2 separate regions of the Homo sapiens genome follow, and region 1 is linked to region 2. Evidence: fine-mapped expression QTL. A gene starts in region 2. The other region holds a variant in brackets. All regions are shown on one strand. Distances are from middle to middle.

Region 1 (5,386 bases), 32 kb before region 2:
CTTATCACCTGATTAAATAAAGTAATGAACATTTACAAAGGCACCGCTGTGTACCTTGACAGATTCAATACATTCAAGATTTCAATTCAGAAGTTTCTTTCCAACGTTTTGGAAAATGTACTCAGAAGCAGAACGATTAGTCATCCTTTTCCCTCTTGTTACTTTAAAGATTTTGGCTGAGTTTGTTTGGCAAGAATAGCATCAAACTTACTAGCCTCTCTTTTAAACTACTATTTTTTTTTTTTAAAACTAAGCAGAATACAAAAATCTAAAAATCTCTCATTTGGATAAATAATTTATGAAAATTATTCAATAAACTTCATAGTACAATCTTCAGTATTGTCTTTTTCAAGCACAGTGATCAGTGCATCTCAAAGATGAGGGAACTGTCAAAGTAATATACACACTAAAATTTAAATTTTTAAAGAAATCAAAGCCTTCAAGTTATCCAATGAAGAATGAGGTTTGTATATTAAAAAGGTAGTGTAAAATTATAAAGCATTTAAAGAAAAACAACCGAGGAACTACATTTTGCTACACTGGGACAGAAACTGGACTTTTCGAATAGCTTCTAACCCAGAAAACAAACAATAACTAATAGCAGCCAGAATTCTTATACTACTATTAAAAAAATAATTTAAAATTTTACATCCAGTTTGAGATCACTTTGAGAATAAAATACCTGCCTAGCAGCTCTTTTGTAAAATGTTACTATAGGAAAAAGAAACCAAGCATATTATTATACTTTCTGATTCCTAACAAAAAACATAAAAAACACATGTCCAGTTCTTTAACATTGAGAGACTTGTTTGTCACAGGTTAATAGGAGGCACTGCTGGTGGAAGACCCTAAAGAATAATGCACACCACAGCCCTCAGCCTTGTAAGTCGTAAGAGTTACTCAAATAGCATGCTTTTTGTTGTGTGTGGGTCTGTTGTTAAGAGCAACAGAACATAAGATTTTTCTAATCATCAATATTCAGAATATAATCAAGAACTCATATCTAATGATGACAAGACTTTCCATTGCACATCAGATACATGATATTTTTAGTTTTGTACCTTCACACAAATTCTGAAGGCAACATCATTTATAAAACTCGTAGGCAAATGTATAACATTTTTTAATAGTAAAAACTCATGATAAATATCTCCCATGCCAAAGTATTAGCATATATTACACTCTGGCCACCATATATATTAGTTTCACTATTAGAAAGCAGTCTAAATCCTTCAGGCAAAAGTTACGTAAACAATTCAAGAAGTCTGCTTTGAAATTTGAATAGTCATCCAATGAGAGGTTCTTATTTCCATAAATAAAATTAAGTTTGTAGTGATATATACCAATGACTGGCCAAAGTGAAATCTTCATGTAGAGTAACATTTTACAAAAGTTACCATATAATATATTCACACACAACAAAACCAGGTTTAGCGCTGTAATTCATATTTTCCAGAATAAATTTTACTTTCTTAAAAGTAAAACTGCATTAACAGAAAAAGGACTAAAGTGCTAAAAATATTTTATAATTTTCCATGATCACCCCAAATGCCTAATGTAATTAGTATGGTTATTTCTAAGTCACATTTTAAAATAATTTTTCTTTAAAAAACCTAAAATGCGTTTTCCCCAGTTTGAAAAATTTTACTCTTACTGATTTAATGGGGAATGTTCCTTTGGTTATTAAATACAACAAAATCACAAAACCACAAGAAACTAAGATGAAATACTTAATGTTTCCTATTTAACACTACACCTTAAATGTCCAAACCTACACTAAGCTAAAAATTAGGAATTCCTAACAAAACGTCTTGGCTCTCCTTAAAACAGCAGCTAAGTCACATAAGAAAGTCTTATTATGTAAACATCAAGAACTCTTAAAGTGTCAAAACACAATAGCAAAACTCAATCCCAGATACATTGCTAAAAAACCTATCCTAAATTAAAATTATACTGAAAAGCCTAATGTAAATGTCTTCAGTTTTTCAGGAGGCTTGGGAAGCACTTATAGACAAGTGTCAAGTTCTGCCAACATGGAACTACGTTATCCACGTTATCGATGCTCATGATTTCATACACAAATAGCCTGCTGGATTTTCAATTCTCTGCAGCCTTCAGAACAAATAACTGTAAATCACACATGCCTAAGCCCTAGTATACTTTTTCATTAAAAAAAAAATTGAAGGAGGACAAAGAAGTCGTTTAAGTCTATTCCTCCTCCTCTGAGAAAGATACAGAAGCCACCTTCAGAAGGCAGCAGTCTAAGAAGCTATTTGCTCTGTGCCCATATTCATGTTAATAAAAATTTCATATGCAAATAAAAGCAAAACCCTTCTGATAACTCAAATCTTGTATAGATCAACAGTGATGTATAAAAACAATGCATAAGCTCTCTCTACCCTCATCTAGATGGTCTAAAATTTGTTACTGGCACTTAAAAACAAAGATTTCACAGAAGTCACAGGGCATAAGGGATAACTTATGGGGTACAAAACACCATTTGATAAATAGGGACATTTCTAAATGTATCTAACAGAGCTCAGAAATCTCACATCATGGTGACATGACTAAAAATAACGAAAATTTTGACTGGGAAGGCCTGGGAGACCTTTAGAGAAACAAAAGGAGAAAGAAAAGATAATGTAAAATTGTTATCACTGTTGTTTAGCTTCTCAGTTCTAAGAATTCATACAATTCAAAGCGAAAACACTGTAAGGTTGTTTAGGTTAATAAATTATAATTTCTGCCATCTGATGAGAAAGCCCTTATGTGGACTTCAAAGTTTCAGGGAAGAGTGAAGGCAGTCAATTTCCCCAAAGCCTGGCAAAAGTCACAGACAAAATTAAAGCCTATGAGCAAAAGGCTCCTCAAGAATACTCCAGATTAAGCTAACATTGTCAACCACCACAGAGGGCAAAGACAAAATCTATATTGTCTACCTTTGTATTCCTCGAGCCCAGCACATAGTAGGCACTCATTTAGAGAATGAACACACATCTCCATATGTCCAC[A/G]AGCTCAAAATGTATAAGTGAAAACCTATGAATTTCTCAAAATAATAATCTATAGATAAGAAAGTTAAACACACACACACACACAAACCCTTGACAGGAGATTTTGCTTCAAGTTTAGGTATTTATCATAGAATATATTCACTTACAACATAACTTTTTATATAACTGACATTTCTCAAGTTCTATTTAATAGAATGGAAATTCACTATGTTTAAAGAACACTTAACCAAATCTACACTTATCTACTTTAGGATTAATACTGGCTCTAAAAAGTAAACTAGTACTATGGTTGGTTTGATTAACTGGTTAGGTAATCATGAGAGCTGATGGTCATAATTATGGGATTGAATCCTTTTAAGAAGAAATATCAATCCTCAAAGGAATCAATCCCATAATGACTTTTTCCCTCCATAACTTAACAATGCAATCCTACACTCCAGCCAGCTAGAGAGCTACCAGACAGTGCTCGTGCGAGCCACTATTCACATGGGTCCAGCCACGGGATATGGAGGATTTGGCATAAATCTATCATCAACCCTTTACTTATGGCAAGTCAATTCTGTCATCTCCAAATGTGAAGAACAATTTTTTAAACTGCCAATAGTGAAAACCAGAGAATGCTTCCCTAGTATAGGTAGCTTGAATGCAATCTAAATATGTATTAATTTTTTTGTGTGTATTATAATGTACTACTGGACTATATGGAACTCTCAGAAAGACACATGCTATTGAATAGTAAGCATTACTAAGAAATTTATGAATGATTAAAATAAAAAAATCAATATCGATTAAGACTATTTTTCCATGTCAAGCTTCAAACCTGACAAAAGGGATGGCAGGATTAAGATAACTATTAACCTCCGAAAGACACAGGACCAAATAAAACACTGTAGAATGACCACAAAAAATGTTTCTCTAATTAGAAGTGTAACTAAACCAAGAAATAAAACAATCTGCTTTCCATGTCACCAATTATTTTCATCTGTTCAACTTCCCAGTTGCTCCTTAATGTGCAATCCACATCTCAAAACATCTTTTTCCTGCTCTTGCTGTTCTGTTCACCTTGGAAAGGTACAATTCTAGCATGTATCATCTTCAAAATTTGGTTTAGAGGGCTTGTATTCTGTTTACAGTCAACATACATACAAACAAGCCTATTGATCTTCAACATACCTTCAGTCAATAAAAGCATACTTCATCCTGAATGTGGGTACTTTGTAATCACTATGTATGAGGAAAATGAGAATGCACCACCTATCAGTATCATATATGAAAAATTCAAAGAATGGATGGATGATCTCTGACTTTAAAACAATAAATGGTACAGTCATGATTTCAGAATCTAATGTTATTCTTAAATGTAATTCACTAGTGAAACACCATGTTCTAAAGGGCATTTATAGCATTACAGCAAATAACATTAAGTAGATTCACAATATTCAATATCTAATTGATGTATAATTATTGCTAAGACTACCCTGCCTTTTTTATCAGGTATGTTTATAATCGTGTCCATCACAATTTTAGATTGTATTGGAACAGCTACTCATAGAAATTTCTTCAGTGCTCACACAAATGGAAGACTTATAAAAACGCACATAAATGTTCTGCATTGGAACAGTAAGAAGCTATAACTTGAATGCGTTCAGACCTGTAGCAGGCTGTTGCTGCTGTGTAAGTGTTGCAGCCATGGCAACGGCTGCTGCGTTTGGCATGGTGCTGAAAGGAGTGGGTCCAGTAGTAACTCTGGGTGTGTTCTGCCACTTCTTGGCTTCTGCTCGCCTTGTTTCAAACACATCAACAGCATCTCCCAAGAACATTTTCCTGTAGCCAAGGTACTGTTCTTTCAGAACCTAAAAGAATAATAAACAAAACGGCTAAATGAAGTTTCACATTGACTATGGTTAATATGTGGATGAATATAACCATAAATTACCAAAGACAGTCCCAATATTATACATTCAATCCAAACTGCAAATTAGAGTGCTAATAATGCACTTTGGTGTAGGAAATGATGAGTTCAAGAGTTCTACTGCTCCCTTGAATAGTTTACTCCCTATCTTTACAATATGCTTCCTAAAATACTGTCTTTGTGAGGCCTTGTTTAAAATAAATCAGCTAAGCTTTTAGACAGAGTAATATTTAAATACTCCATCAATGTGCAGATGGATGGATGAAAAGAATTTAAAAATAAATATTCCAGTTTTTCAAGAAACTTTCCCCTCAAATGTCCAACCTTTTCATAGCCTTTTGATTAAAACAGTTTAAAAAAAAAAGAAAGAAAAAAAAGTCAGCACTAAATATACATACTTTTAAATACATTTTTTAGAAGGCCTGGGTAACACATGCTAAAATAAGGTGTTGCACCTCAGCAG
Region 2 (5,386 bases):
CTACTAAAAATACCAAAAATAAAAATAAAAAATTTAGCCGGGTGTGGTGGCGTGCCTGTAATCCCAGCTATTTGGGAGGCTGAGGCAGGAGAATTGCTTGAACCCGTAAGGTGGAGGTTGCAATGAGCCAAGATCACGCCATTGCACTCCAGGCTGGGTAACAAGAGTGAGACTGTCTTAAAAAAAAAAAAAAATACATATATATATATATATATATATATATATATATATATATAATCTTGACAACATAACTGAAGACATTATGAAGTATTACATAATGAAAGTTGAAAATACTGCCAAAGAAACACATCAAAATGAAATTTTTCTCTACCACAAAAGCAAGAGAGAAATTTTGGTGGCAGTGAAATTTACTAAATTCAAGAAAAGCAAAAGCTACCCTAAACTTGACCAATTATTGCCTCAAACCAATGTTATCTGCCAAGGACTTGATAGGATGTACTGTAGAAAAGCCAACTTGACTCAATCACATCTGGAATGTTATTTTAACTTGCCCAGCTTGCCCTAATGCAGACTTGGTAGCTAACATAATAGCTAAGATTTACTGAGCACTTAGCAAGTGCCAGACTTGATGCTAAATATTTAAATACTTCATCTCACTCATCAACTCAGGTAATATATTATACTCCTTTTCCAGATGTGAGAACTCCCCTAAAATGACCAACCTCAAGACATCAAATCACTAGGTGGCACTAGGGGCTGTCAGGCCTCCCAACCAGCACTCTAACAAATTTATGTCGGACAGTCTCCTCTTTCATTAATTTATCCAAGCCTCTCTAAAACTTGGGTAATTTTTTATAGCTTATTACTAATAACTCATTTGCTCAGTCATTCAAATTGTTATTAAAGCCCTTTTTCTATGCCAGGCACTGTCCTTGGGACTGACAATGAGGTGGGAAATTAAGACTCAGACCTTGCCCTCAGGCAGTTTCTAGTCAGTGAGAGACATAGGTATTAATTATTCTAGTGCTGAGATCTGACAACAAACAAGTTAACAATAAATATAACAAACTGATTACAATTGTGATCAGCACTCTAAGAGTACTAGGAGAATGGAAATCTCCCCTAGACTGACAGGTCAGAAAAGGCCTCTCTGGGGAAGAGACCATTTGATATTTGCAAGGAAGGGGCTGGCAAAGCCCACTTGAAAAGAGAAAAGGCCATGTTGCTAGGACAGGCTTTCTAAGATCAGGACCATGAGAGAAATATAAAAATTAATTCATCAAGTCATAAGCAACATTAAAAAAAAAAAGAAATAGAAAATATCAAAGTGCATCCCATGAAGTAAGGGTATCTTTCTCTGAAACTTCATTTCAGTTATTTAGGGTGGTAGTTGTGTGTTTGTTTTTAACAGTGGGTCTGCATAGCTAAAATAAAAAGATGGGCTCAAGATGAGTCCCGCTCAAGATGAGTCCCCAGAGGTTCCAGCAGAAGTGGACCTTGCAGACTATGGTAAGTTTTTTTTTCTTTTTTAAACTTCATTCTAACGATGGCGGGTAATGATTAAAGAGAGAGCAATGGGAATTTTGTTTTTCAATTACTCTGGCTAAAATGTGGCAGAACAGATTGAAGAAGTTGATTGGAGTAGTTTTCATCTAAAACAAGAAAGACAGCTGGTTAAAAATCTGACAAGAATCAAAATTATTTTCATAAGAATGTAAGGATCAAGAGAGCAAGACTCTTAATACCTAAAACAGAGCCTTGCACATGGGAATCTGTCCAATAAATATTTGTTCCACGAATGACAATAGCCTAAGCAGGGTTGTGGAACTGGAAATAAAGACAAACAGAAATGGCAGAAGTAACATTATCAGAACCTGTTGTTGAGCGAGTAGAGTAAGAATAACGGAGGTATGGATGAAAATTCAAATTTCTGAATTGACTGTGTAGTCCGTGGTTCCTCCTCCCTCCCTTTTTAAACTGCAGGTCATGCTTAAGTATTTGCCTTTTAAATCTACAGCCACATCTTTTAAGCTTCAGGAAGTATCTTGTTGACAGTGTGCACACTCCTTAACTTTATGAACCCCTCCACCTTTATCTTAAAAAAAATTGAGTTCTAAAGCTTAAATCTCTCATTAAAATGTCTCACCACTTTGTTTCTTTCTGGATAGTTATGTTTTTGTCGCCACCTGAACTAATGGGTTGCACAAAAACAAGGAACATGCTACCTACGTTTTGTAATTTAAGTAAAAGACAAATTGAGTTATTACAACACAACATTCTCGCATCAGATATACTAATCTGCACATACTGCAGAAAATTACCACTAATAAACACTGTAAAAAAGTGTTTTTGTTTTTTTTAACAAAAACAGATAAGGTCCCATGTGGCACAAAAGCTTGAAAAGCTGGTTAAAAACCACAAAGTTATTAAAACACCGTCATATCCAAAACCGCAAATGCTGCAATGAAATCGGAATTATCTATCATAAAACTCCACAGTATGCTATAATTTCATTCATTCATTCAATGTTCATTCTATGCCTAAGACTGACACATCGCTAAAGCTCCGGGGTAGACCCCAAGGCCCTTCCACGCAGTCAAGACCCCACTAGGTCCAAATAATGCCTGAACTATACGTGGATTCTGGAAACCTCACAGCACAGAACCCATCCCGCCCTCCACTTCACCAGGCCGCGCTGGGCCCGGGTACCGCGGCGAGAGGCCTACGACGCCGGGCGGCTAGATTAAGTGCTTCTCTCCAGCCCCACTGGGAAGGAAGCCAGAGGGAAGAGACAGGATGGGGACACCAAGGGAGCTTTGCGGGGGTGGGGGTGGGGGTGAATCCGGCCCAGGAAGGCGAGAAAGTGCGGTTACCTAGACGCTCCCGTTCCGAAGGAGAAAACGCCGCCTGTGCTGGTCCCGCCGGCGGCCACGGTGGTGGAGCCCAGAGTCCCGGACCCGAAGGAGAACCCTGTGGACATGTCTGGCCAGGGCTCGACGCCGTCAGCAAGGCGAAATGGGTCTGGGACACTTCTCTCGCCTCAAAGCCGAGGCGGGCCGGGCAGCATCTCTCTCGCCCGGCACGGACCTGGCGGGAACTTCCAGCCCCAACGGCGGCGAAGGCAAGGCTGAGGGGGTGGAGCAACCACGCAAAAGTACGCCCGGCGCTCGCCGCGCGCACGTAGCCCGCCGGAAGTGTAACCGTCACGCAATGAGCCCTGGTACGTGAGTGGGGGACGGCGAGCCGCGCAAGGTACGCTGGGACCAGGCGAGAATAGGCGTACTGCCTAATCTCTTAAAGGAGTAGGCTCCCAGAGTTTAAAAACAGTAAAACCATTTCTGTCATTTTTTAGTTCTTCTATCGTAGCATCTGTACTGACATAATCCGCACTTTAGGGTGATGAATGTCAATTGCTACTTCTATCTAGCCTCCTGCCAAAATTGATGCTCAGAATCGCAGAATCGGGGAGGTCCCTCCTGAGCATCTCTAAGCTCCCCACTCAGAAAAGGAGGCGGCTTCGGGCTTTCGTTGGCTGCCGCCCCATCCCTAAGAAGGAAGGGGAGCGTGTCTGCTTCCTGAAGGTTCGGAAATCAATCGAAAATAATCCATGCAACCGTCCCACGACGTGAGCCCCACCCCTGCGCCCCAGGCCTCGCGGAGCCAGTTGGTCGCAGTTGTTGCGAGCCCGACGCCCAGCCCCGAAGGGGGCCCAGAAGAGCGTCCCAGGCGTCCGTGGGGTGGCCGGCTGTGGTCCTGGCGCCCAGAAGTGGCCAGGCCCGCTGGATTTCCTGGGATGCGGTCAAGTCCACAAATACTGTCCGTGCATCCTGATGCTGGAGGGCGGGACCTTGGGCCGAGCGAGTGTGGCTCCGCCAGAAGGGCCCTCGGACACAACCGGTGCTGGAGGAACTACAAAGTGGAAGGATTAGGAAACGCACAGGAACATGTACGAAAGAAGGCGAAATGTGAGGTGTAACTTACATTTCTAGGATAACTCAAGAAAAATTCGCGTTTAAAGAGAACCTCTCTGGCGAAGCATCAGGAAAGGCTTCCTGGTGGTGGTGCATTCGAGGGTTGTCATCATAGTGTTAGTTTTTATTTTTCCCTCAGGGATTGTTACATTACTCCCCCAAATGGTTTTCCTACTCGTGATCTCTAACAAAATCCATCCCATAAGCAACCCCCGGATTTATGATCTAAAAAGCCCAGTGGCTCTTTAGTTTGGCACTTGATGACCTCCGTATGATTAGTCTTTCTAACCTCATCTCACAGTTCTCCCTAATTCAGTACTTTAATCTTCCGTTGAGCTTGGGCATTGCCACCAGCTGTGGACTGAACTATTTCCCTCCTCCCCCAATCCATATGTTAAAGCCCTACCCCACCCCAATATGTTGGTATTTGGAGATGGAGCCTTTGGGAGGTAATTCAATTTAGATGAGGTCACCTTGGTGGGTCGCCCATGGCGAGATTAGTGCCCTTATGAGAAAAAACAACGAAGAGCTTGTTCTCCTCTGTGTGCCATGTGAGGACAGAGCAAGAAGGGGCTTTCACCTGGAACCCAAACTGCCCCATCTTTATCTGGGACTTAGCCTCCAGAATTGAGAGAAGTAAATGTCTGTTGTTATAGCCACCTCAGTCTATGGTATTTTGTTGTATCAGCCAAGCAGACTAATACACCACCTCTGTGTTTGTATAATTAAAAAGAAACGTACATTTTATTTTGTTTTTTAAATTTAATTTATATTTTACTTTATTTTGAGACAGAGTCTCGCTCTGTTGCCCAGGCTGGAATACAGTGGTGCCATCTCGGCTCACTGCAACCTCCGTCTCCTGAGTTCAAGCGATTCTCCTGCCTCAGCCTCCCAAGTAACTGGGATCACAGGCGCACGCCACCACGCCCGGTTAATTTCTGTATTTTTCAGTAGAGATGGGTTTTCACCATGTTGGCCAGGCTGGTCTTGAACTCCTGGCCTCAAGCGATCTGCCCACCTCGGCCTCCCAAAGTGCTGGGATTACAGGCGTAAGCCACTGTGCCCGGCCATAACATTTTAAACGTCATAGAAGTCATAATGGGAATGATAAAAAAGAAAAAAGGGATATATTTGGATTAAGATATAAATAAAAACTTCATAGTTATCGAACAGGAGGCAAAAATAAAAGATTGTTGTGAGTTTTAAAGCTTCGGTGATATAGAGAAAGCTATTTTCAGTGATGGCTATAGGGTGGTCAGTAAGAGGATTGTTCACATAAAGTCTAGGAGACTTCCTTTTGACTGAAAAAAAAAAAGATCCTGATGATTTTTATGGGAAGATAGAAAGGCACTCCCTATGTCTTTTGATTTTCTCGTGTATTCTTTCCAAAACTATTGAAGAATACCAACCTACAATTAGTAATAGCAAAATGGCTGGCACTTAAATATATAATA

Evidence for each region. PIP is the estimated chance that this variant, and not a neighbour inherited with it, causes the effect.
Region 1: its variant is the best candidate, but not a certain one, in a credible set for the expression of NUP58 in thyroid (GTEx, PIP 0.54).

What each region holds. Positions count from the first base shown.
Region 1 is chr13:25,330,835-25,336,220 of GRCh38, reverse strand. It overlaps NUP58 (nucleoporin 58), which reads right to left. Exons shown (of 16, transcript NM_014089.4): 13 at 4,663-4,864. Among named protein-coding and RNA genes, the nearest start is that of NUP58, 32 kb to the right of the region's middle. The variant A/G (reference allele first, on the strand shown) is at 3,012.
Region 2 is chr13:25,299,329-25,304,714 of GRCh38, reverse strand. NUP58 (nucleoporin 58) reads right to left here and starts at 3,090. Exons shown (of 16, transcript NM_014089.4): 1 at 2,835-3,090. The coding sequence starts at 2,941. RefSeq lists enhancers at 2,795-2,844, 2,955-3,034, 3,195-3,434.